3 separate regions of the Homo sapiens genome follow, and all the other regions are linked to region 1. Evidence: fine-mapped expression QTL. A gene starts in region 1. Each other region holds a variant in brackets. All regions are shown on one strand. Distances are from middle to middle. Region 1 holds the start of THBS3 (thrombospondin 3). Region 2 overlaps DAP3 (death associated protein 3). Region 3 overlaps RIT1 (Ras like without CAAX 1).

Region 1 (8,000 bases):
CTGGAGAAGGATGGGGAGGAGTCAGCACTTGACATCTGCCACCCTACCCCAGAATCAGTGCCACCCTTCGCCAGCCCACCCAAACCTGGTCTCGTATATCATCCCGCAGCTCCACCAGGATCTGGTTGAAGAGGGTGAGTTGGGTGACCAGCGCCTTGGTCTGCTCCCCTGTCGGGACCCAGGGTGTGAGGGGTTCAGTACTGGAGCACCAGTCCTGGGCCCTCCATGGGCAATAAGCCAGTACCTGCCACGGCTGCCCACCCCTGCCTTTAAACCTACTACATTCCTGACTGAAGAGGACTTAGTTTCAGGCAGCTGCCAGAGCCTGGGGCCTCCTCCCCGCTCCCCGCTTCCGCTTCAGTGTGGCCTACTCACCTAGAATGGAGTGCAGTGCATTGGTCACTGGAGAGGAGAAGAAAACATAGTCAGAGGGGTGAGGTGAAGTGAAGAGAGGCCTGGTTGGTGAGAAGGAGGAAGGAAGGTGAGGACAGGGACAGGGCTGGAGCCCCAGAATAAAGATGGGGTGCTGGATGCTGGGAGGGCAGAGCTGGCAGACAAGCAGTGCCAGCTCCTTCTATGGGGCAAAAGGCCCTCTAAGGGAGTTGCTTCACAGGAAGTTAGAACCCAAATCCTCCTGGTTCCTAGGCATGGTAGTGGCAGAAGGGATGGACCCAAAGCAGGGCCAGGGCCCCAGTATATCCCCATTTTTTTTTTTTTTGAGTCGGAGTCTTGCTCTGTTTCCCAGGCTGGAATGCAGTGGCGTGATCTCTGCTCACCACAACCTCCACCTCCTGGGTTCAAGCAACTCTCCTGCCTCCGCCTCCCAAGTAGCTGGGACTACAGGTGCCCACCACCATGCCCAGCTAATTTTTTGTATTTTTTAGTAGAGAGGAGGTTTCACAGTGTTGGCCAGGCTGGTCTTGAACTCCGGACCTTGAGGGATCAGCCCACCTCAGCCTCCCAAAGTGCTGGGATTACAGGTGTGAGCCACCACACCCGCCATCCCATTCCCTTCTTCAAGAGCTCTCCCTCAAATATCTGGGAAAGGTGGGTCTTTTATTTAGGTGAGAGCTTCTGAACATCCCTGTCAGAGAGACCAGGCAGATGGGCAACACTCAGAGAAATTGCTGGTGACAGCTGCCAGTGAGAACTATAAAAGACTCGAGACCAGGCCGGGCGCGGTGGCTTACGCCTGTAATCCCAGCACTTTGAGAGGCCGAGGTGGGTGCATCACTTGAGATTAGGTGTTTGAGACCAGCCTGGCCAACGTGGTGAAATCCCATCTCTACTAAAAATGCAAAAATTAGCTAGGCATGGTGGAGGGCGCCTGTAATCCCAGCTGCTTGGGAGGCTGAGGCAGGAGAATCACTTGAACTCAGTGGAGACTGCAGTGACCCAGATTGCACCACTGCACTCCGGCCTGGGCAACAGGACAAGACTCCATCACCAAAAAAAAAAAAAATACTCGAGACCAGTATCTCTTGGTCAGCCAAGGCCAAGCAATTAACCAATTCTTCTCTTAGATCACTTTTTTTCTCGGATGGGTGTATTGGAGATTGTGGAGTCAGGTGAAAGATTTGGAATAACAGGGTTAGAAACCCTAGGAACAGGTGAGCCAAAGGAATGGGTTTTAAGGGAGAGGGAGATCAAGAAGACAGGAGTCACCAAAGGCCACAGGATCCGTGGTCCAATGTCAGCAAACAAGTCTCTGTGTTACCTGCACTGTGGATGGACTCGTCCCCTTGGAATGGACACTCACTCAGGGCTCCTACCCGGGCCATGGACCCACCCAGAATAATTTTCATAGATTCCACAAAGCCCTGGGGGGATAGCAGCAGAGTAAGGTGGGAAGGTCTACCAACCCCTTCCCCAGCTGGTGCAAACTCTATTTCCACAGAACTCAGAGGCTCCTCCCGGCTCACCTGCATCCTCAAATACGCCTTCTGTCCAGTCCTAATCTCCAGCCCATCGACCTCCGCTGGAGGAATGGGGGCCAGTGCTGGAAGGCCTGCATGTTGGTCACCCAGTTTGCAGTCCACGTAGAGATGTAGGGCAGGGCTGGGTCTGGAGGGACCTCGGAGTCGCAGGAGAACTGTGTGTGTGCGCCCATCAGCCAGGCCCGCTTGCTGTAGGTTCACGGCGTGGACTTTGCCATCCTCCCGCTGGTATCGCACCAGTACTGCCCAGGAGGGGAGATCAGTATGGGCGCTATCCCCCACCCCCTGCCTCCCAGCTGAGCCTTGGATCAACTCTGCTAGATACCACATCTCTAGGGCCCCTATCCCTAATTCTACTATGTGGCTCTCAACACCTTGTATTTAATAGGTACACAATAAATGTTTTTGAAATTGCTTTAGAGGCCAGGCACGGTGGCTCACACCTGTAATCCCAGCACTTTAGAAGGCCAAGGTGGGCAGATCACTTGAGGTCAGAAGTTCGAGAACAGCCTGGTCAACATGGCGAAACCCTGTTTCTACTAAAAATACAAAAGTTAGCCAGGCATGGTGGTGGGCACCTGTAGTCCCAGCTACTCAGGAGGCTGAGATAGGAGAATTGCTTGAACCCAGGAGGCAGAGGTTGCAGTGAGCTGAGATTGTACCACTGCACTCCAGCCTAGGTGACAAAGCAAGACTCCATTTAAAAAAATAATTGGTTTAGAGACAAATACTTTCTTAGTCTTCATTGGTATCAGATGACTGTATCCTCTCCTAGGGTGACAGCTGGTTTTGTGGCCACTGACCTGTTCCAGGGATCTGAAAGACCTTTCTGTATCACCGCTGAGGCACAGAGACATGCCTCACCCTCCTTCCAGGCATCCCCAAGTACAACCTCCCATCCCTATAAATATCAGGACTCAAGCCTCACCCTATTGTTTGGTACATGGGCTCCTAAAGCACCTTATAAGCACCCCATACCAGGTGCCCCTGATGTCTGGGCACAGCCTGATGGGACCTTGGTCCCTAGTGGAGGCCAAGGAGAATGAGGAAGCACTTGGGAAGTAGGGATGAGGGAGAGTGCTTAAGGAGGTCACCATTGCAAGAAAGGAGATGCCCACCAGTCACCTTTGTTGATCTTGCCTACAACAGAGGCCTCCAGCCATCGAGTGTTGTCTTGGCGAGAATAGAGGCCAAAGAGGACACCACCCTGCTTGGGGGGCAGGCGGAAGGTGGATAAGAGGTAGATGTCCCCAGCAGTGAGCAAGGCTGTCCGGATCTTCTCTGCCACAGCTACCATCTGCCGAGACTCGCCCACAGTCAGCAGGTCAATTACTGGTCAGGCAGGGGTTATCAAGGTTAGAGAATGGGATCAAATGCTAAGGTATGCCCTCCCCCGAGCCCACATCACCCCCTACCCCCACCACCAGGCAGCGTTAGTCACCTCAAAATTCAACCCTTGGCTGGGCATGGTGGCTCGCACCTGTAATCCCAACACCTTGGGAGGTTGAGGCAGGTGGATCGCCTAAGGTCAGGAGTTCGAGACCAGCCTGGCCAACACGGTGAAACCCCGTGTCTACTAAAAATACAAAAACAACAACAAAAAAGAAAAAAAAACCACCTAGCCGGGCGTGGTGGCGGGCACCTGTAATCCCAGCTACTCAGGAGGCTGAGGCAGGAGACTCGCTTGAACCTGAGAGGTGGAGGTTGCAGTGAGCCGAGATCGCGCCATTGCACTCCAGCCTGGGCAACAAGAGTGAAACTCCATCTCAAAAAGACAAAACGAAAACAAAAAAAAACCTCAACCCTTGTTGCTCTCAGAGGACAGAGGCACTGTGCCTTCCTTTCCCCATTATTGCCTATTACTACCTTCCAGGAACCTGCAGGTTTGAGACTCACTTGGAAACACAGAAACAGCACCCCACAAATTTGAGATGCCCCCACCAGGTGGCGCAAAGGAGATGCTGTGCTGATCCCCCACAGGAGTGGCACCTGGTGTCCACAACGTAGAAATGGAAGGCAGCTTCTCTTTCCACTCCTGGGTTTGGCTCGTTCCACACCCTAGTTCCCCTCCTCCCATCCTAGGGGCGCAGCACACTCGCTCTGGATAAGAACAGCTGCCCACTGAGGACTCTAACCCTCCCACCATCTGGGCTATCTCCCACGGGAATGTAGGACCCAGCTCCTCTGCCTCCTGTGTCCTGGCCAATCTGTGGTTTTCCCTCCAGCCAGTAAAGAATCTATGCCTGTGTCATCTGCTCCAGCTACCTCTCCCACATCCATCGGCCCATCCCACCACCAGACCTCCGGGAGAGCCCAGGCTTCTTGGTCCCCACCCCCGCCCTGTCCTTGGGCAGCCAGGAGCCCAGGGGGACGAAGCCCAGGGACCTACAGTACGCCCACCTTCAGGCTGCTCTCCCAGACCCTAGGGTGCCTACAGATGCTCAGGAACCACCCCAGCCAGGCAGCCTGAGCATCCAGTTCCTGAGTCCTCTGCCCTGGCCTCATGCCTGACCCTGTCCTGTTCCAGCTCCCCCACTACTCTCCGGTGCCCACTCCTCTCCACCAGGCCATAATTTCACCAACTCTAGGCAGTCTTAAGTTTTCCTCTGGCTCAATTTCTGGACTCTTCCCCTCTCCCCTTGCCCACATGTTCTCTGCTACTTGGGCTGAGGGCAAATGGGGAAGAAGCAGAGAGCGGTCTAAGAGGATGGAGACAGGCTTACCCTGCAGATCCTGACTGGCAGATGTGAAAAAGCAAAGGAGGAGAAGAGCCAGGGCCCCCCGAAGTTCCTGCGTCTCCATGCCTCTCAGCCGGCTCACTACCCCTGGCAGGCAGGCAGCTGGGAGGGGAAAAGGCTAGGCGGAGAGAGCAGGAGCCGGGGGGCGGAGGGACAGAATTGGAGGGGGGGCCAGCAGGCGGGTGAGGGGGGGCTGAAACAAAGAGCTGCCAATCACCCTGGAGGCATCATCAGCTCTGGGAACCAGGGGCACTGGGAAAGAATCCTGGAGGCCTCCCTGCTTTCTACCTCTCCCTAATGATCCTCCCCCAGGTGCCTCCCTCTCCGCAGTCATCATTGTTGGGGGTCTCGGCACACAGCGCTACCGAATGCCACTGTTTTCTGGAAGCCACGATTGTGGAAGGCAAGAACCCCTGGCAGGGGCAGTGCTAGACAGTGGGCATTATTCCACAGCTGGCAGGAAAGGATGCCAAGGGAGTGGCCGCAACTAGCTTGCTATAGTGCCCAGGGATGCCCACATGGCATGAATTTTGCTGTTCTGGCGGAGCAAGTGCTCTTTATTAGGGTGGGGGGTCCCCTGACAAGTGCCTGTTTCTCCATTTTCCCTCATTCGTAGGAAAGCTTGGGAGTCTGGAAGCGTCTGACGGGAACTGAAGGGAGAATCTAAAGCAGTGGTCAGTGAGGTCAGAGTGAAGAAACCAAAAAAGAGGAAAGGGACACCAGGGACAGGCGCAGAAGACCAGGGGTACAGGCGAGGAGCCAAGGACCAGACTGTGGAACACTGTGGGTACTAGCGGACGGGCCGTGACCCGGATGAAGCAGAGGGGCGCCTGAGTTCCCGTCACCTAAGCGACAGCCTGCGAGCCTCTCTTCCCCTCCCCCACCCAAGCCCCAGCCCGGCCTCCGCTCCGGCCGCCGCCACCGCCCCTGTTTTGTTTCCATGGCGACAGGCGGCGCAGGGCCCGCTCCAAACATAACGCGCTGTGGAAAACATGCTGCTCGGGGGACCCCCCCGCAGTCCCCGCTCGGGGACGAGCCCCAAGGGGCCCTGGAGCAGTACAGGCCACGTGCAGTTTGGCAAGAGCCCCCAGACCTGGCCCAGGCGCACAAGACCCCGCTCTCCAGAGCCTGCCGCGCCTTCAGGGGTTCGGGGCTCCACTTGGACGAGGCGCCGTGACTCTCCGAGGCGCGCCGGGCCGACAGCGCTGTCCCGCTACGTGGGCCACCTCTGGATGGGCCGGCGGCCGCCCTCCCCCGAGGCCCGCGGCCCAGTCCCCCGCAGTTCAGCTGCCAGTCGGGCCAGAAGAAGCCTCGCCTCCCCGGGGATCTCCCCAGGCCCCCTGACCGCAACGATCGGAGGGGCGGTGGCGGGGGGCGGGCCCAGGCAGGGGAGGGCAGAAGCACACAAGGAAGTGTTTCCGGGACAGAGGGTGGGCAAGATGGCGGCGCCCATGGAGCTGTTCTGCTGGTCAGGGGGCTGGGGGCTGCCGTCAGTGGACCTGGACAGCCTGGCCGTGCTGGTGAGGGGTGGCGCCGGCGCCCTCTGCTGTGCCCTGATGACTGGGGAGGGGGCCGAACTAGCCAAGCATCCAAACCTTGCCAGGGCTACTCAGCACGGGCGCAGTGGGGGAAACTGAGGCAGTCAAAGAGCGTACGTGGCCGATATGGCCTCAGTGCCCTATGCTGTAGTTTTCTAGGCTTAATGCAGCAATGAAAAGACGCCTGGTTGGGAGTTCAGGTGATGGGTTCTAGTCCTTGCTCATCCATTCACTGGCTGTGTGACCTTGCGGAGATCCTTTCTCTTTGGGCATTTTTTTTCTCCATTCGGAGGTTTACTAGGCTGGACTGTCTCAGGGACCTACTCTAGCTTGGAATTCCTGCCTTCTCCTCAGCCCCCTTCTCCTCTTCCTCCTCACTTAACAGCATTTACTGAGGCTATTGTTTGTTAGACCAAACGACTCACAGCCAGGCTTTGTATAAAGAGCTTAGCAATCAGACTTCCTTTGCTTCATTTATTCATTGACTCCTTGCTTTAAAGAGGATCTATTAGATTTCTTCCAAATATTAAACATTGCCAGGCAAAGATGAATAAAATTTGGTTCCTCCCTTCGAGTTTACAGAAAGGCAGATAGGTAAGCAAATAAATATAATAAAATATTCACATATAAGTTAAAGTAGGAACAGACCACAGATACTGCCAAAGAGAAGGGCATTATCAGTGCTTCCAAGAAGAGGGATACTGGTTAGGAAAAGCTTCTGAGGATAGATGTTCACCAGGTAGATGGCAAGAGAGGAGATAGAGGAAAGGATTTTCCTGGCTGTCCTGTAATCACAGACATGTCCGGAATCTCTCTGAGCCCTGTGTTGTCCATTTGTAAAATAGAAATGGTAGTGACTCCCCCTTTTTTTTCGAGACTAAGATACTAAGTATAGGGAATGGCACATAAGGTATTCAATAAATGTTATTTCTCTTCTTGATACCACTGTGGGGGACATGGCTCTGCCTCTCTGACTTCTGCTTCCTTCCCTGCAGACCTATGCCAGATTTACTGGTGCTCCACTGAAGGTACACAAGATCAGCAACCCCTGGCAGAGCCCTTCAGGTACCCAGTATCCCTTGGGGGTAAGGAAGGGTGTGTACAAGGGGAGAAGCAAGAAATAGGCAGGAATGTGTTGCAACTATGTATGACTAGGCAGCTAAGGGTCTGGTTGGTATACTTCCCTCTCAATATCAGGAACTCTGCCTGCCCTTCGGACCAGTCATGGAGAGGTCATCTCAGTTCCACACAAGATCATCACCCACCTTCGAAAAGAGGTAGGTGACTTGGATAGAGGGGGCTGCCAGTGAGAGAAGTTCAGTCAATTCTATACAATACACATTTATTGAGCACCAGATATATGCCATGCTAGATGCAGGTGACCCAGAGCATCAAGGAGCAACAGTCTTGTGGCAGAGACACACACAATGTCACTGTGATGTATTAAAGCAGTCGGCAAGAGATGAAACTTAGGGCACTGTGAGGCAGGGAGGGAGAGGAGCACAGGCTGAAGGAGAGTGGAAGACAGCAGTTGGCCTCTGATGGTGGGACTGGAGAGAGATTTCTAAGGGCCACTTCCTGTTTTCAGGGACTAGGTTGGGCTAGATATGGGGCTCAGGATGGACAAGGCTTAGAGCCAGGTTGGAGAAGATGAAAGAGCATTACTAGAGGAGTGGGGAGGCCTAGGCTATGCTCTTTACTCTGCCATTGACTATGTGATCTCGGGCAGGCCATGTAACCTCTCAGGGCTGTGCACTCCCTTATTTGTAAAACTAGAGGGCTGGGCC
Region 2 (9,079 bases), 500 kb after region 1:
GACCCGATCTCACAAAATAATCAAGTAGTGAGGAAATACTGAAGAATTTTAAGCAAGGCTTCAGTGGAGAAAATGTTTAAGTCTGGATGCTGGTAGATCATTTATTTTAATTTGGGTTCAAGATGATAGTGTCCTAGAACGGAAGCTGATTACACGTTCTGACCGTCATTTCTCATAGTGTCTATAACATAGGCAAAATAATAGCTCCAGTGTCCACAGGCACGCCTATGGAAAGAAGTGCATCTGGACCATGTCACACACTCCTTCCTCTCCAGTACCCAGCCTGCTTCCTAGTCCACAGCTCTTCCAGTAGTGGTTGTGCCGGGGAGCATTGAGAAGATCTGGGGAGCACAGTGGGGCAGGTCAAATACTATTGGAGTGACATTGCACTCTAGAAAAGGAGCCCTGAAATCCCACAAGTGAAAAGGCAGGCAGGCCAGTAGAGACCATCCCAGTCTTATTCACCACTATAGACTCTGTGTAGTGTGGGCGTGTGGAAGCATGTCATATGCTTCTTGAATGACTGAGTTTAGGAGTGCTTTGGCGTCTTCATTAAATAGTATGGCTGGGCAGGTGGCTTATGCTTGTAATCCCAATACTTTGGGGGGCTGAGGCGGGAGGATCACTTAAGGTCAAAATTTTGAGAACAGCCTAGCCAACATGGCGAAACCCTGTATCTACTAAAAATACAAAAATAAGCTGGCGTGGTGGCGGGCGCCTGTAGTCCCAGGTACTTGGGAGGCTGAGGCAGGAGAACTGTTTGAACTCGGGAAGTGGATGTTGCAGTGAGCCGAGATCATGCCACTGCACTCCAGCCTGGGCGACAGAGCAATATTCCATCTCAGAAATAAACAAACGAATCCAGTATATTTAAGGCCAAGTGCGATGGCTCATACCTGTAATCCCAGCACTTCGAGAGGCTGAGGTGGGAGGATCACTTGAGTCCAGGAGTTCAAGACCATCGCTGGCAACATAATGAGACTCTGTCTCTACAAAATAAAAAAGCCAGGCACAGTGGCACGTGCCTGTAATTCCAGCTACTTGGGAGGCTGAGGTGGGAAGATCACTTAAGCAGGGGAGTTCGAGGCTGCAGTGAGCTGTGATTGTGCCACTGTATTCCAGCTTGGATGACAGAGCAAGACCCTGTCTCAAGAAAAATAACAAATGTGATAAAGTTGAAGCAGAGCATGGTGGCTCACACCTGTAATCCCAGCACTTTGGGAGGCTGAGGCAGGAGGATCACTTGAGCCCAGGAGTTCAAGACCATCCTGGGCACCATAGCAAGGGTTATGTCTACCCAAAAAAAAAAAAATTTTTTTTTTAATATGCCAGGCAATGGCACCTATATTCCCAGCTACTTGAAAGGCTGAGGCAGGCGGATCACTTGAACCCAAGAGTTTGAGGCTACAGTGTGCTGTGATCTTGCCATTGCACCCCATCCTGGGCAATGGAGCGAGACCCTGTCTCAAAAAAAAAAAGAAAGAAAAAAAAAACAGAAAGGAAATAAAATGAAAGGAATTTATGTTATTCTCTCTCTCTTTTTATTTATTTTTAAATATTATTTATTTATTTATTTATTTTTTGAGATGGAGTCTTGCTCTGTCACCCAGGCTGGCATGCAATGGCGCAATCTCAGCTCACTGCAACCTCTGCCTCCTGGGTTCAAGCGATTCTCCCGCCTCAGCCTCCTGAGTAGCTGGGAAAACAGACATGCACCACCATGCCAGGCTTATTTTTTATATTTTAGTAGAGATAGGGTTTCACCATATTGTCCAGGCTGGTCTTGAACTCCTGAGCTCAGGCAGTCCATCCATCTCGGCCTCCCAAAATACTAGGATCACAGGTATGAACCACTGCACCTGGCCTCTTTTCATTTATTTATCTATTTATTTAGACCAGATCTGAGTGTATCATGCAGGCTGGAGTACAGTGGCATGATCATAGCTCTTTAACACCTGGCCTCAAGTGAGCCTTTTGCCTCAGCCTCCTAAGTAGCTACGACTACAGTCCTGCACCACCCTGGCAAACTAATTAATTTTTTTCTTTTGTTTGTGGAATTGGCGGTCTTACTATGTACCCAAGCTGGTCTCAAACTCCTGGGCTCAAGCAGTCTTCTCATCCCCGCCTCCCAAAGGGCCGATATTACAGGCATGAGTCACCATGCCCAGCCTATGTGATTCTCTTGACTGTACTATAAATTCCTTGACTATAAGATCAGGGACTATAATAGTTTGTTCACCATTCCATTCACAGAGCCTGACACACAGTAGGTGCTCAGTAACTGTTGGGTTAATTGGTTGCAACTCTATGGTTGTTATTATTGTTGCTTTAAAGATTTGGGTTGTGAAAGGTGTGTCTGGGTGCGGTGGCTCACGCCTGTAATCCCTTTGGGAGGCTGAGGTGGGAGGATCACCTGAGGTCAGGAGTTCAAGACCAGCCTGGCCAACATGGTGAAACCCCGTTTCTACTACAAGTACAAAAATTAGCTGGACATGGTGGTGTATGCCTGTAGTCCCAGCTATTTAGGCAGCTGAGGCAGGAGAATCGCTTGAGCCCGGGGAGGCAAGGTTCCAGTGAACTCCAGCTTGGGTGACAGAGCAAGACTTCATCGCAAAATAAATAAATAAATAAATAAATAAAATAAAATAAAGAAAGGTGAAAATGATAGCCAAGGGGGCCGGGTGTGGTAATTCACACCTGTAATCCCAGCGCTTTGAGAGGCCTAGGCAGGTGGATCACCTGAGGTCAGGAGTTCGAGACCAGCCTGGCCAACATGGTGAAACCCTGTCTCTACTAAAAATACAAAAATTAGCTGGGCGTGGTAGCTGGCATCTCTAACTTCAGTTACTCAGGAGGCTGAGAGGAGAATCGCTTTAACCCGGGAGGTGGAGGTTGCAGTGAGCCGGGATCATGCCATTGCACTCCAGCCTGGGCAACAAGAGCGAAACTCCATCTCAAAAAAACCAAAACAAAACAAACAAAAAAAATTTATAATAGGCCAGGCGCGGTGGCTCACGCCTGTAATCCCAGCACTTTGGGAGGCTGAGGCGGGAGGATCACAAGGTCAGGAGATCGAGACCATCCTGGCTAACATGGTGAAACCCCGTCATTACTAAAAATACAAAAAATTAGCGGGGCGTGGTGGTGGGCGCCTGTAGTCCCAGCTACTCGGGAGGCTGAGGCAGGAGAATGGCGTGAACCCGGGAGGCGGAGCTTGCAGTGAGCCAAGATCGCGCCACTGCACTCCAGCCTGGGTGACAGAGCAAGACTCCGTCTCAAAAAAAAAAAAAAAATTTATAGCCAAAATGAACTAATTAATTACATAGACATTTAATTCAGTTATTCCATAACTACTGGATATTGAGAGTTACATTTAAGTATTTTAAACCTCTTAGCTCCAAAAGATTCGGGCTTTTAAATTAGATATTTCCTGTATACAAAAAAATGAATATAATACACATGATATGAAAATAATAAATTCTCATGTATCCATTATCCAGTGTTAGTTTATTATCAGTTTCCTTGTGTGCCCTGCCCCAATCTTCTTCCCTTTTCTTCTCCCCAGGAGTAACCATTATTCTAAATGTTGTTTTTATCATTCTCTTGCTTTTTTGTTTCAGTTTTCCTATTTATATCCCCCAAATAATTAATGAAGCTTTTTGGTTTTGAATTTTATATGTTATGTCATGCCAGATGTAATAGCGTTCACTCAGTATTCATTTTTGAGATCCATGTTGATGCATGCAATGGTAATTTTTTCATTTAATTGCTTTCTAATATTCCATTTTATGACTGTCTCTATCTACTGTTCTACTAAGGGACATTAGTTTTTTCTACAGTTTTTTTATAATTCATACTCTGCTAGTATGAACCTCCTTATATATATTTCCCAGTGTACATGTAGAAGTTTTGGTTTTGGTTTTTGTTTTGAGACAGAGTTTCACTCTTGTTGCCCAGTCTGGAATGCAATGGCACGATCTCGGCTCACTGCAACCTCTGCCTCCCAGGTTCAAGGAATCCTCCTGCCTCTGCCTCCCGAGTAGCTGGGATTACCGGTGTGTACCACCACGCCCAGCTAATTTTTTGTATTTTTAGTAGAGATTGGGTTTCACCATGTTGGCCAGGCTGCTCTTGAACTCCTGACCTCAGGTGATCCACCTGCCTTGGCCTCCCAAAGTACTGGGATTACAGGCTTGAGCCACCACACTTTCAACTTTTTGTTTGTACATTTTCAACTTTGCAAAGATAGTGTATTTTCAACTTTGTTTTGTGCATTTTCAACTTTGCAAAGATAGTGTATTTATACTTTCATTGACATGTATGAAAGTTGAATACAATGTAATGTTTCGCAGCCTATTTAACATTTGCTATTGTCTGACTTTTTAATTTTCTTTTTCTGTTTTTGTTTTTTTTTTTTTTTTTTTGAGACAGAGTCTCACTCTGTCACCTGGGCTAGCGTACAGTGGTGTGATATCAGCTCACTGCAACCTCTGGATGCAAGCAATCCTCCTGCCTTAGCCTCCAGAGTAGCTGGGACTACAGGTGCATATCACCACTCCTGACTAATTTTTTTTTTTTTTTTTTTTTGAGACACAGTCTTGCTCTGTCGCCCAGGCTGGAGTGCAGTGGCATGATCTCAGCTCACTGTAAGCTCCGCCTCCCAGTTTCATGCCATTCTCCTGCCTCAGCCTCCCAAGTAGCTGGGACTACAGGCGCCCACCACCACACCTAGCTATTTTTTTGCATTTTTAGTAGAGACGGGTTTTCACCGTGTTAGCCAGGACCGTCTCGATCTGACCTCGTGATCTGCC[C/T]GCCTCGGCCTCCCAAAGTGCTGGGATTACAGGCGTGAGCCACTGCGCGTGGCCTCCGACTAATTTTTTAAAATATTTTTTGGTAGAGATGAAGTTTTACCATGTTGGCCAGGCTGGTCTCGAATTCCTGACCTCAAGTGATCTGCCCACCTTGACCTCCCAAAGTGCTGGGATTACAGGTATGAGCCATTACACCTGGCCTATTTTCTTTTTTTTTTTTGAGGTGGTCTCACTCTGTCATCCATGCTGGAATGTAGTGCATCTCAGCTCACTGTGACCTCCACCTCCTCCCAAGCTCAAGTGATCCTCCTGCCTCGGCCTTCCGAGGAGCTGGGACTACAGGCATGCACTACCATGCCCTGCTAATTTTTATATTTTTTGTAAAGACAGGGTCTCACTTTGTTGCTGAGGCCAGTCTTGAACTCCTGGGCTCAAGCAATCCACCCACCTCAGCCCCGAGAAGTGTTCCTCCCAAAGTGTGGGGATTGTACATGTGAGCCACTGTGTCCCGCCTGACTTTTTTATTTTCCCAGTATGATGATTGTGAATGGTATCTGGTTTTCATCATTTTAATTAGCATTTCCCTGATTTGTAATGAGGTTCAAAAATCTTTTCATGGGTTCACTAGCCTTTTGTGTTTCGTTTTCTGTGAAATGCCTGTTCATGCCTTTTGCTCATTTTTTTAATGAAGCTGTAGGCATTCTTTATATATTCTAGATATTAATATAGATTATTAATCCCTATTAATCTATTGTCAGTTTTCCATGTTGCACACATCTTTTCCCATTTGTGGTTTACCTTTTCACTTTTTTTTTTTTTGTAACAGTGCAAGGATGATGCTGAAAGGAATAACAAGGCTTATCTCTAGGATCCATAAGGTGAGTCCTGACTGACCTGAACACTCTGTGCATACTGCCTTTAGGTTCCCAGATTCTTGTTTTCAGATGGATTCATTGTATCTAGAGTGAAATGCTCTGGAAAACTTCATATGTAACAGGTTTCAGTAGAATAATTGTGCTTGAGAATTTACCATGGAATAGGAGAATTAATATTTTTCCAGAAAACATAAGTAAGTTTGACTGTAATTATCTTTATTAACTTTATTTCTCTAGCCAACTAGAGAATGGTTATCATCCCTTAATGAAGTATTTAAAAGAAAAACAAGTTGCCAATTTACAGCTTTAGCATCTAAAATAGAATAAAAAATAAAATTGTACATGAAAAAGACCATTCTGCTGGTTTACTTCATTTTTTCACATATTTACCAAATAGTTTTTCAGTACTTTTTTTTTTTTTTTTTTGAGACAGAGTCTCGCTCTGTTGCCCAGGCTGGAGTGTGCAGTGGCGCAATCTCGGCTCACTGCAACCTCTGCCTCCTGGGTTCAAGCTATTCTTCTGCCTCAGCCTCCCGAATAGCTGGGACTACAGGCGCTTGCCACCATGCCCGGCTAATTTTTGTATTTTTAGTAGAAACGGTGTTTCATCATATTAGCTAGGCTGGTCTCGAACTCCTGACTTCGTGATCTGCCCACCTAGGCCTCCCAAAGTGCTGGGATTACAGGCGTGAGCCACTGTGCCCGGCCTTCAGTACCTTCTATATGGCAGGTACTCAGAATTCTAAGATGCCTCATTTCACTAATAATAGTTATTATTTGTTGGGTATTATTATGTGCCAGGTACTACACTAAGTGATTTATTTTTTTAATCCTCATGATCAACCCATGAACGAGATAATATCCTTGTTTCACAGATGGAGAAACTAAAGATGAGACTGGCTAGGTAACTTACCTGAGGAAATAGCCTGTGAGGTTGCAAAGCCCACACGAGATGCCAGGTCTGTCTGACTTCAAAGCCTGTGGCCTAACCACTGTGCTCTATTGCATTTTATGGTCCATGTTCTCCAGAAGCTTACAGTCCAGTAGAATCATGAAAAAATGACTATTTCAGTATGGTGCTCTTACAGCACCAAAGAGGAGCACCTGAGCGGGATTAGTCGAGTCAGCAGGAGATCCTGAAAGGCTCAGAACTGAGCCAGAAAGACTTGGTCATTTTCAGCTGATTATTTAATTACAGATTAGATTTCCTAGAAAAGGAGCCCTTCCTCCTATATGGCTCCCCCTGCATGTGCCCCCTTCCCTCAGGCCTATATATTAATACATAAAATAACCCATTATTATAAAATGAAACGAAAGCAAGGATCAGCAGAGGGATGGATTCTGGACTCAACTGATCATATTACAAGGCTAAAATAAATTTCCTCTCTCGGCCGGGCACAGTAGCTCATGCCTGTAATCCCAGCACTTTGGGAGGCCGAGGCAGGCAGATCACCTGAGGTCAGCAGTTTGAGACCAGCCTGGCCAACATAGTGAAACCCCGTCTCTACTAAAAATACAAAAATTAGCTGCGTGTGGTGGCACACGCCTGTAATCCCAGCTACTTGGGAGGCTGAGGTAAGAGAATCGCTTGAACCCAAGAGGTAGAGGTTGCAGTGAGCCAAGATCACGCCACTGCACTCTAGCCTGGGCAATAGAGCGAGACTCCATCTCAAAAGAAAAAAAAAAATTTCCTCTTTCTTAATAACAGACAACAAAGACCTGAGGCTAGACTGTAGAGTGCTGTTGGTGAGAGAAAGTTTTGTTTTTTTTTTTTTACTAGTTTGGTTCAGGGTGACTGTATTAGTCAGGGTTCTCTACAGGGACAGCACTAATAGGATAGAAGTATATATGAAGGAGAGTTTGTTAAGGAGTATTGAGTCACACCATCTGGCGAAGTCCCACAGTAGGCCGTGAGCAAGCTGAGGAGCAAGTAAGCCAGTCCAAGTCCCAAAACTTCAAAAGTAGGGAAGCTGACAGTGCAGTCTTCAGTCTGTGGCTAAAGGCCTGAGAGCCCCTGGCAAATCACTGTTGTAAGTCCAAGGGTCCAAAAGCTGAAGAACTTGGAGTCCAGTGTTCGAGGGCGGGAAGCATCTAGCTCAGGAGAAAGATGAAGGCTGGAAGACCCAGCAAGTCGGCTCATCCTACCTTCTTCTGCCTGCTTTATTCTAGCTGCCCTGGCAGGTGATTAGATGGTGTCCACCCACACTGAGGGTGGGTCTGCGTCTCCCAGTCCACTGACTCAAATGTTAATCTCCTTTGGCAACACCCTCACAGACACACCCAGGAACAATACTTTACAGCCTTTAATCCAATCAAGTTGACGCTTAATATTAACCATCACGGTGATCTTCTAGATTGGCTCACAAATGCTCTTTCAGAAACTGCAGGATGTTCATTCTGGAACTGTACAGAGGCAATTGTACAGATGGTTGTTTTCTCTGGAAACAACAGTCTACTTGAGTGATAACATATATAAAACTTTAAGAACTAAAGATTCCATTTTGCTGTAGGCCAGGCATGGTGGCTTACACCTGTAATCCCAGCACTTTGGGAGGCCAAGGCAGGCAGATCACCTGAGGTCGGGAGTTCGAGACCAGCCAGACCAACATGGAGAAACTCCGTCACTACTAAAAATACAAAATTAGCCAGGCGCGGTGGCGCATGCCTGTAATCCCAGCTACTCGGGAGGCTGAGGCAGCAGAATCGCTTGAACCTGGGAGACAGAGGTTGCAGTGAGCCAAGATCACACCATTGCACTCCAGCCTGGGCAACAAGAGTGAAACTCCGTCTCAAAAAAAAAAAAAAAAAAAAAAAGATTCCATTTTGCTAGCTTTTAATTTGCTTCAAAAAGTACCTGTAGTTTCAGCTACTTGGGAGGCTGAGGCAGGAGGATCATGTGGGCCCAGGAATTTGAGACTGTCCGGGGCAATATAGCAAGACCCTACCCTATGTCAAAAAAAAAAGTGTAACAAAAATGTCATCACATTACTGTAGAAATAGGACCACCTTGTGACCCTTGAATAGTTTGTTTTCCACTCTGCTTTCTCTCCAGCTAAAGAGGCATGGTGCTTTCTCTCCGGTAGATAAAATTGAGTAGCGTTTAAGTAGTACTAGGGTGTGTTATTCAGATTGCTACCCTGAAGTAACAAGCCTTGTATTCTCAGTGGCCTAACACAAAGGATATTGTTTGTGTTGTGTGTATGTGTTTTGCTTTGTTTTTGCTGTTCCTGTCTTTCAAAAAGGCTTTGCAAGCAAGACTGAAGTCTGGATGGAGGGACAAAAGTTTACCTTCTTGGGATACATCGCAACATATAGCTTTTAAGGTGGGGAGGGAGAGATAATTTATACCTCACACTTAATTGGCTCTGATTAGAAAGGACACAATGACACAAG
Region 3 (8,000 bases), 690 kb after region 1:
CTGGGGAGCTGGTTAGTTCACCTCAAATACTACTTTTTTTTTTTGAGACAGAGTCCTGCTCTGCCACCCAGGCCGGATTGCAATGGCCTGATCTCAGCTCACTGCAACCGCTGCCTCCCAGGTTCAAGCAATTCTCCTGTCTCAGCCTCCCGAGTAGCTGGGATTACAGGCATGTGCCACCACACCCAGCTAATTTTTGTATTTTTAGTAGAGGCGGGGTTTCACCGTGTTGGCCAGGCTAGTCTCGAACTCCTGACCTCAGGTGATCCGCCCACCTCAGCCTCCCAAAGTGTTGGGATTACAGGCATGAGCCACCATGCCCAGACAGTACATTAAATCTCAATCTAATTGAAAGCCTCTGACAGGGCCATAAGGAGAAAAACTCATTTTCTTTCTTCTTATTTACATTTTGAGACAGGGTCTTGCTCTGTTGCCCAGTCCGGAGTGCAGTGACATGGTTCACTGCAGCCTTAGCCTCCTGGGCTTGGTTAATCCTCACACCTCACCCTCCCAAGTAGCTGAGTAGCTGGCATCACAGGCATGCACCACCACGACACACGTGCTACCACACCTGGCTAACTTAAAAAAATTTTCTGTGGAGACAGGCTGGTTGGAACTCCTGTGCTCAAGCAATCCTCTTGCCTCGGCCTCCCAAAGTGCTGGGATTACAGGCGTGAGCCACCACGCCCAGCCTATGTAGCTATCTGTCTGTCTGTCTATCTATCTATCTATCTATTTATCAATCAATCATCTATCTATCTATTGAGACAGGGTCTCACACTGTCACCCAGGCAGGTGTACAGCGGCACAATCATAGCTCATTGCAGCATCCACCTTCTGGGCTCAAGCAATCCTTCCACCTCAGCCTCTCAAGTAGCTGGGACTACAGGCACACACCAGCACACCCAGCTAGTTTTTAAATTTTTGTAGAGATGGGGGTCTTGCTATGTTGCCTATGCTAGTCTTGAACTTCTGGCTTCAAGTGACCGTACCACTTCAGCATTCCAAAGTGCTGAGTTTACAGGCATGAGCCACCACACCCGGATGAAACTGGATATTTTCATGATTTACATTCACTCACATCAAATCAGCTTCTTCTCAGGCTTTTTTCCAAGTTAACATTTAGTTATTGTTTACCAAGCAGTTGAAATTGCTATGTGTCCCTTACTCCTTCTCATTCTCCCACCATTCAATCCAAATCTGTGTCAGATTTTGCACGTTAGAATTAGAGGTGCCCACTGAAAAGAACTGAGACTCTAAGAACTGTGAGCTTTTTTTTAAATTCACTGTTGAATTCCCAATGCCAACACATTGCTTGGCATGCAGCGGATACCCAAGAAAGGCAGGCAGGCAGGGAACAAAATATTGTCTGGGAAGCAGACTTAAAGCAAACCTGAAAAGGCTGTCTCTTCTTCCTACTTATTCTGAGTTGGAGTTTCAAAAGAAGTTTGGTATAATGATCGGTTTTGGTTTTGTGTTTTTTGATGATGGTGGTAGGTGTGTGTTAGTTGCAACTAGACCCATGTATTTCTCTTCGGGAGTCTAAGGACATGAAAATAAGAGTGTCCAGAATGTTTTGGGTGGGAATGCACAATTTAATTCTCTGGCTGACTAGATTGATGTACATGCCTTCCTGGGCAGCAGAGATTTTATGTTGGATTGCAGTGTATTGAGCACTTGGACCCATCCTCATAAAAGCCATACATTTCTCTGCCTCTGCCCCCTCACCTGCACACTCCTCTGCCAGGAAACTAGGGAAAGCATTTTGTGGGAGATGTTTTGGAGCTAAAGTTTTTCTTCTGGCTCAGAGAAAACTGCAATAAACTCTGGCAATAACTAGCTCCAGGAAGGGCAGGAAATGACACATGTCCCCACTGCAGCAGCTTTTGTTCAAAAAACTGAGTGACTTCATGATATGATCACGTGTGCTGTGGAATGTATGCACTGAACCAAAAGCTGCTCATCATGAGTTTTTTTTTAAGCAAACATTATTAGATAAAGCTAAAACATTTCAGTAGTTTTGTCTCAAGGCCAACTCATGGTTTTTTGTTTGTTTGTTTGTTTTTGAGATGGAGTCTCGCTCTGTCGTACAAGCTGGAGTGCTGTGGCGCAATCTTGGCTCGCTGCAACCTCCACCTCCCGGGTTCAAGTGATTCTCCTGCCTCAGCCTCCCGAGTAACTGGGATTACAGGCGCGTACCACCATGCCTGGCTAATTTTTGTTGTATTTTTAGTAGAGATGGGGTTTCACCATGTTGGTCAGGCTGATCTTGAATCCCTGACCTTGTGATCTGTCCACCTCAGCCTTCCAAATTGCTGGGATTACAGGCGTGAGCCCTGTGCCTGGCATATGTTTAAAAGTTGATTGGACAGCTTTGTACAGTGACAGGATTATAGCCAATGAGGCATGATTATTGCTAATTGAAAACTTTTCCCAATACCCTGGCATTGGCAATTTTTGACAATCTCTATGGAGACTGAACTTAAAAAACAAAAGTTGATTGAAAAAAAATTTTTTTTTTTTTTTGAGATGGAGTCTTGCTGTCGCCCAGGCTGGAGGGCAGTGGCACGATCTTGGCTCACCGCAACCTCTGCCTCCCGGGTTCAAGCAATTCTCCTGCCTCAGCCTCCCAAGTAACTGGGATTACAGGCGCATGCCACCACACCCAGCTAATTTTGTATTTTTAGTAGAGACAGGGTTTCGCCATGTTGGCCAGGCTGGTCTTGAACTCCTGACCATAAGTGATCCATCTGCCTCAGCCTCCCAAAGTGATGGGATTACAGGCATGAGCCACCGTGCCTGGCAAGATTTCAAATTTCTGTACGAGTTTGGAAAAGGCATAACACTACCAATGACTTATTAGGAGTCTACTACATTTACTAATTCCTTCCTTTTTGAATTCCTATAACATTTCCAGTTTGAAGCATATGACTTATTACTTTAAGACTGACCTCTAGCTGTTTTATATATACAAATTTTATTTATTTTTTTGAGACGGAGTCTTGCTCTGTTGCCCAGGCTGGAGTGCAGTGGCATGATCTCAGCTCACAGCAAGCTCTGCCTCCCAGGTTCACACCATTCTCCTGCCTCAGCCTCCCGAGTAGCTGGGACTACAGGCGCCCGCCACCGCGCCTGGCTATTTTTTTTGTATTTTTAGTAGAGATGGGTTTCACCATGTTAGCCAGGATGGTCTCGATCTCCTGACCTCGTGATCCACCTACCTCAGCCTCCCAAAGTGCTGGGATTACAGGCGTGAGCCACCGCACCTGGCTACATATATAAATTTTATCTAAGCTCCAGAGCAGGAATAACATATATATATTTTTGGTGTATATATATATACAATATACATGTACAAAAAAAATATATATATACACTTTTTTTTTTTTAAATACAGAGTCTCACTGTTGCCCAGGCTGGAGTGCAGTGACACGATCCTGGCTCACTGTAACCTCCGCCCCCTGGGTTCAAGTGATTCTTGTGCCTCAGCCTCCAGAGTAGCTGGGATTACAGGTGTGGGCCACCACACCCAGCTAATTTTTTTTTTGTTTTGTATTTCAGTAGAGATGGGGTCTCACCATGTTTCTCAGCCTGGTCTC[G/A]AATTCCTAAGCTCAGGCAAACTGCCTACCTCCACCTCCCAAAGTGCTAGGATTACAGTCATGAGCCACTATGCCAGCCCGTATTCTATATTCCTCTGAATCCTTCACAGCTCTTTAAAACAGTGCTTAATACATGGAAGAGGCTTATAAATACTTCACCTGAAATTCCATTACTTATTCTAACAGAGGTTACATTAGAAAATGGAATGCCATTAAGTATGAGTAATTTAATCAAAGAGGGGAACAATTTTTTTTTTTTTTTGAGATAGAGTCTTGCTCTGTTGCCCAGGCTGGAGTGCAATGGCGCAATCTCAGCTCACCACAACCTCTGCCTCCCGGGTTCAAGCAATTCCAATTCTCTGCCTCAGCCTCCCGAGTAGCTGGGATTACAGGCGCCCACCACCACGCCCAGCTAATTTTTGTATCTTTAGTAGAGACAGGGTTTCACCATCTTGGCCAGGCTGGTCTTGAACTCCTGACCTCGTGATCCACCTGTCTTGGCCTCTCAAAGTACTGGGATTACAGGCATGAGCCACTGTGCCCGACCAGGGGAATGATTTTTTAAATCAAGTGAAGAAAAAAAAAAAAAAGAGACGGAAAGAAAAATGGAATGCCACTCCTCCAGTACCTGTTTCTAGTGGACACTGACAGTTACTGACCATTCAAAAATGTTAAATAGGCAGGGTGCAGTGCTCACACCTGCAATCCCAGCACTTTGGAGGCCAAGGCGGGCAGATCACTTGAGGCCAGGAGTTTGAGACCAGCCTGGCCAACATGGTGAAACCCTGTCTGTACTAAATATACAAAAAATTAGCCAGGCGTGGTAGCACATGCTTGTAATCCCAGCTACTTGGGAGGCTGAGGCACAAAGATCACTTGAACCCGGGAGGCAGAGGCTGCACTGAGCTGAGATGGTGTCCCTGCACTCCAGCCTGGGCGACAGAGTGAGACTGTTTCAAAAAAAAAAAAAAACTTAAATAATAATGAGGACATAAAAATCCACTCTTGGGCCAGGTGAGGTGGCTCAAGCCTGTAATCCCAGCACTTTGGAAGGCTGAGGCAGGAGGATTGCTTGAGGCCAGGAGTTTGAGACCCGCCTCTACAAAATATGTAAAAATTTGGCACGGCATGGTGGCATGTGCCCGTAGTCCCAGCTACTGAAGAGGCTGACGCAGGAGGATCTTTCACTTAAACCCAGGAGTTCAAGGTTACAGTGAGCCATGATCACACCACCGCACTCCAGCCTAGCAGACGGAGACTGTCTTTTTTAAACCAAAGACAGGCGAGATACAGTGACTCACACCTATAATCCCAGCACTTTGGGAGGCCGAGGAGGGTGGATCACTTGAGGTCAGGAGTTTGAGACCAACCTGGCCAACATGGCAAAACCATCTCTAATAAAAATACAAAAATTACCTGGTCGTGGTAGTGCGCACCTGTAATCCCAGCTACTCAGGAGGCTGAGATGGGAGAATCACTTGAACCTGGGGGGCAGGGGCTGCAGTGAGCCCAGATCACACCACTGCACTCCAGCCTGAGTGATAAGAGTAAGACTCTGTCTCAAAACAAAAAAATCCATTTGTTTAACGTTCAAATTAGGTCCTCTCTACCAACACTGGTGGCCATTTACAGTAATGGAGATTAAATGACCTTCAGGTAAAAAGTTATCATTCTTGGCTGGGTGCGGTGGCTCACACCTGTAATCCCAGCACTTTGGGAGGCTGAGGCGGGTGGATCACAAGGTCAGGAGATCAACACCATCCTGGCTAACATGGTGAAACCCCATCTCTACTAAAAAATACAAAAAATTAGCCAGGTGTGGTGGCGGGCGCCTGTAGTCCCAGCTACTTGGGAGGTTGAGGCAGGAGAATGGCGTGAACCCAGGAGGCGGAGCTTGCCGTGAGCCGAAATCGCGCCACTGTACTCCAGCCTGGGCGACAGAGCGAGATTCTGTCTCAAAAAAAAAAAAAAAAAAAAAATCATTCTTTCACTTTTCATTTAGTGTATTTACTTATAACAACTTTAAGTAACCCTTGATCAGGTAGCAAATGTGCTGTCATTTTCCATATGTGTTTTTCCTGTCTCCTCCCAAGAGGTAATCTCTTCAAATGAAGGGGGATTCCATGGCATGCTCCCTAGCACTTGACATGGGTGTCTTGTTCATGGTGGGCACTCAAATTTTTTGAATTCATATTTTCCAGAATATCACATCTCATGGTTATGTTTTTCTGAAAACAACTCTTTTGCAATGATTCCAAAAACTCTACCCACTGATAGGGAAGCAAAGGAAAGCCCAAGTTGTTTAAAAGTTTTGTATTATGTCATACAAACTGTCTTCACATACAAGTGCATTAAAAAAATTATCCCCCCCTCCTCCTCCCCAAACATCACAGTAGACCAATTCTTGCTAATATATGACAAAGTTAAAACATATGTCCCCTCTGAATTCTAAACAGCTAATTCTAGACACTAACATCTGGATCTTATAATTTACCGGTCTGGTATGGACATGAACAGTTCCAGTGCCTTTCAACTTATCCCTGAATTTTTCTCTTCTCAAAGTTCTAGGCAGTAATTTTAATGCCCTCAAATTAGATAAAGCTGATTACTTAGAGCTTATAAATTAGCTACACTTTATGACACTAAGAATAGAGCTATGACTTATGCATATCATACCTGTCAAGCTACCTAGCACCACGAATAGAACTAATATTAATGGATGGACTAATACAAGGATCTAATATATGACAGTGATAGTCTTAAAAACACCGATTTGTTATTTTCCTTATATATAATCCAAATTCCTTTCTATCCTTCTGGCAATGTTTCTACTGCCTGACTACCTTAAATAACTATATAGTGTCAATTTCTTGCTTGGGCCAGGTGGTGGCTCATGCCTGTAATCCCAGCATATTGGGAGGATTGCTTGAGCCTAGGAGTTCGAGATCAGCCTGGGCAACATAGTGAAACCTCATCTCTATTTAAAAAAAAAAAAAAAAAAAAAAAAAAATATATATATATATATATATATATATCTCTTAATGTTAATAACAATTCCCTAGGTCACTAGTAATAAGAAGCTATGGGCTTTAAACTTAAAAGGTGCTAAACCAGTTTAAATGTAAAACATTCTCATAATAGAATTGCACTGTATTTCTTTTCTACTTTGATGCTTTTCCAAAGTGCTATAGTTCCTGTGAGATTTGTGTCCTGCACAGAATCAAATGCTAGGTCTTTCACTTTTGGATGGCTGAGTACCATAAAACATGATTTATTTGGTAACAAAAATGTTTCCAGGAGTTTAAAAAGGGACCACTACTCAGAGCTAAAAAAGTTCTAACAGTCACTTTTTAAAAAAGCTAGTTTATCATTTGTTTATAAAGAAAAACACAACTCTGTCCTACTTCCTCTAATAAAAATGGAAAATATTAAGATGAGCTGTGTGCTTATAAAGAGGTGCTACACAAGTCATCTTACGTTTCTAGTCAACACAAACATTGCTTCAGTGACACTTAATATTCAATACATGATGCATTACTCTTAGCATTTTTGCATTTACTCTCCGCATATAACAAGGTCAGATATCAAAACAGTCCTGATCTTAGACAACTCACTACCAATATTTAAAGCTGTTTCCTCCTAGGACTACAGTTCCTAAACTATGCACAGGGAGCAAAGTGGTATTCCCTTAGGATAAACTTGGTCAAGGCTCAGATAACCCTGAGATGAACTTAGCAAAGTCCTTGTAAAGAAATCTTCAGATGGGAAACTCCACCTATGTGAATTTTAAAGCTTTAAGACTGACCCATTCAACAGAAATAGCAGATTTTCTCAGAGCACTGAGTCTAGTGATTGTCCACGTCAAGGAGGCACACACACAATTTTACCCACACCCCTGATGTCTCTTCTGTATGGAAAATGCAATCAGTGATGAAGGGCCGAAAAAACATCTTGCCAGCTGTAGCTCTTTTACAGAGCACAAAGTGGGAGGAAGCAATGAATATAAATGTGTTGGTGTGTGCGTCTGTGGGGAAAAAATAAACCTGTACAAGGCAATGGCTGATCCAACTATGAATTTTGATTAAACACGTTTAGTAATACAGTTATGATTCCCAAAATGTCTACCTTTGAAGGTAAAAAAAAAAAGAAAACCCTGAAATGAAGAGTAAAATAAGGTTCCCAGGAGAAACCTTCATCACATTTTATGCTTCTGGCTGTTCTCACTTATCCCGGTGAATTTGGGCCAAATGTGTACTTCTTAGAAAAGCGAAGCTTGTACTGAGAATACTGTTCTGAACCTACCTTTTTAAGTCCCTGCAAACATATAGCCCAACTTTCCCAAATCTCACCACTCCATAGTCTGCAACAGGTGTCAGCCTCACAGGTATCTGCTGAAATTTG

Evidence for each region.
Region 2: its variant is fine-mapped to the expression of THBS3 in whole blood (TOPMed, PIP above 0.99).
Region 3: its variant is fine-mapped to the expression of THBS3 in whole blood (INTERVAL, PIP above 0.99).

The regions. Positions count from the first base shown.
Region 1 is chr1:155,203,138-155,211,137 of GRCh38, forward strand. THBS3 (thrombospondin 3) reads right to left here and starts at 4,760. Exons shown (of 23, transcript NM_007112.5): 1 at 4,661-4,760; 2 at 3,063-3,269; 3 at 1,923-2,179; 4 at 1,718-1,820; 5 at 376-402; 6 at 86-168. The coding sequence starts at 4,739. MTX1 (metaxin 1) reads left to right here and starts at 5,558. Exons shown (of 8, transcript NM_002455.5): 1 at 5,558-6,195; 2 at 7,209-7,278; 3 at 7,411-7,490. The coding sequence starts at 5,668. THBS3-AS1 (THBS3 antisense RNA 1) reads left to right here. Exons shown (of 6, transcript NR_183238.1): 6 at 1,898-2,352. RefSeq lists an enhancer at 3,761-4,544 and a silencer at 5,908-6,107.
Region 2 is chr1:155,704,136-155,713,214 of GRCh38, forward strand. It overlaps DAP3 (death associated protein 3), which reads left to right. Exons shown (of 13, transcript NM_004632.4): 2 at 5,638-5,689. The coding sequence starts at 5,645. Among named protein-coding and RNA genes, the nearest start is that of DAP3, 20 kb to the left of the region's middle. The variant C/T (reference allele first, on the strand shown) is at 4,812.
Region 3 is chr1:155,891,911-155,899,910 of GRCh38, forward strand. It overlaps RIT1 (Ras like without CAAX 1), which reads right to left. Exons shown (of 6, transcript NM_006912.6): 6 at 5,898-8,000. It also overlaps the pseudogene LOC124904686. Among named protein-coding and RNA genes, the nearest start is that of RIT1, 15 kb to the right of the region's middle. The variant G/A (reference allele first, on the strand shown) is at 3,600.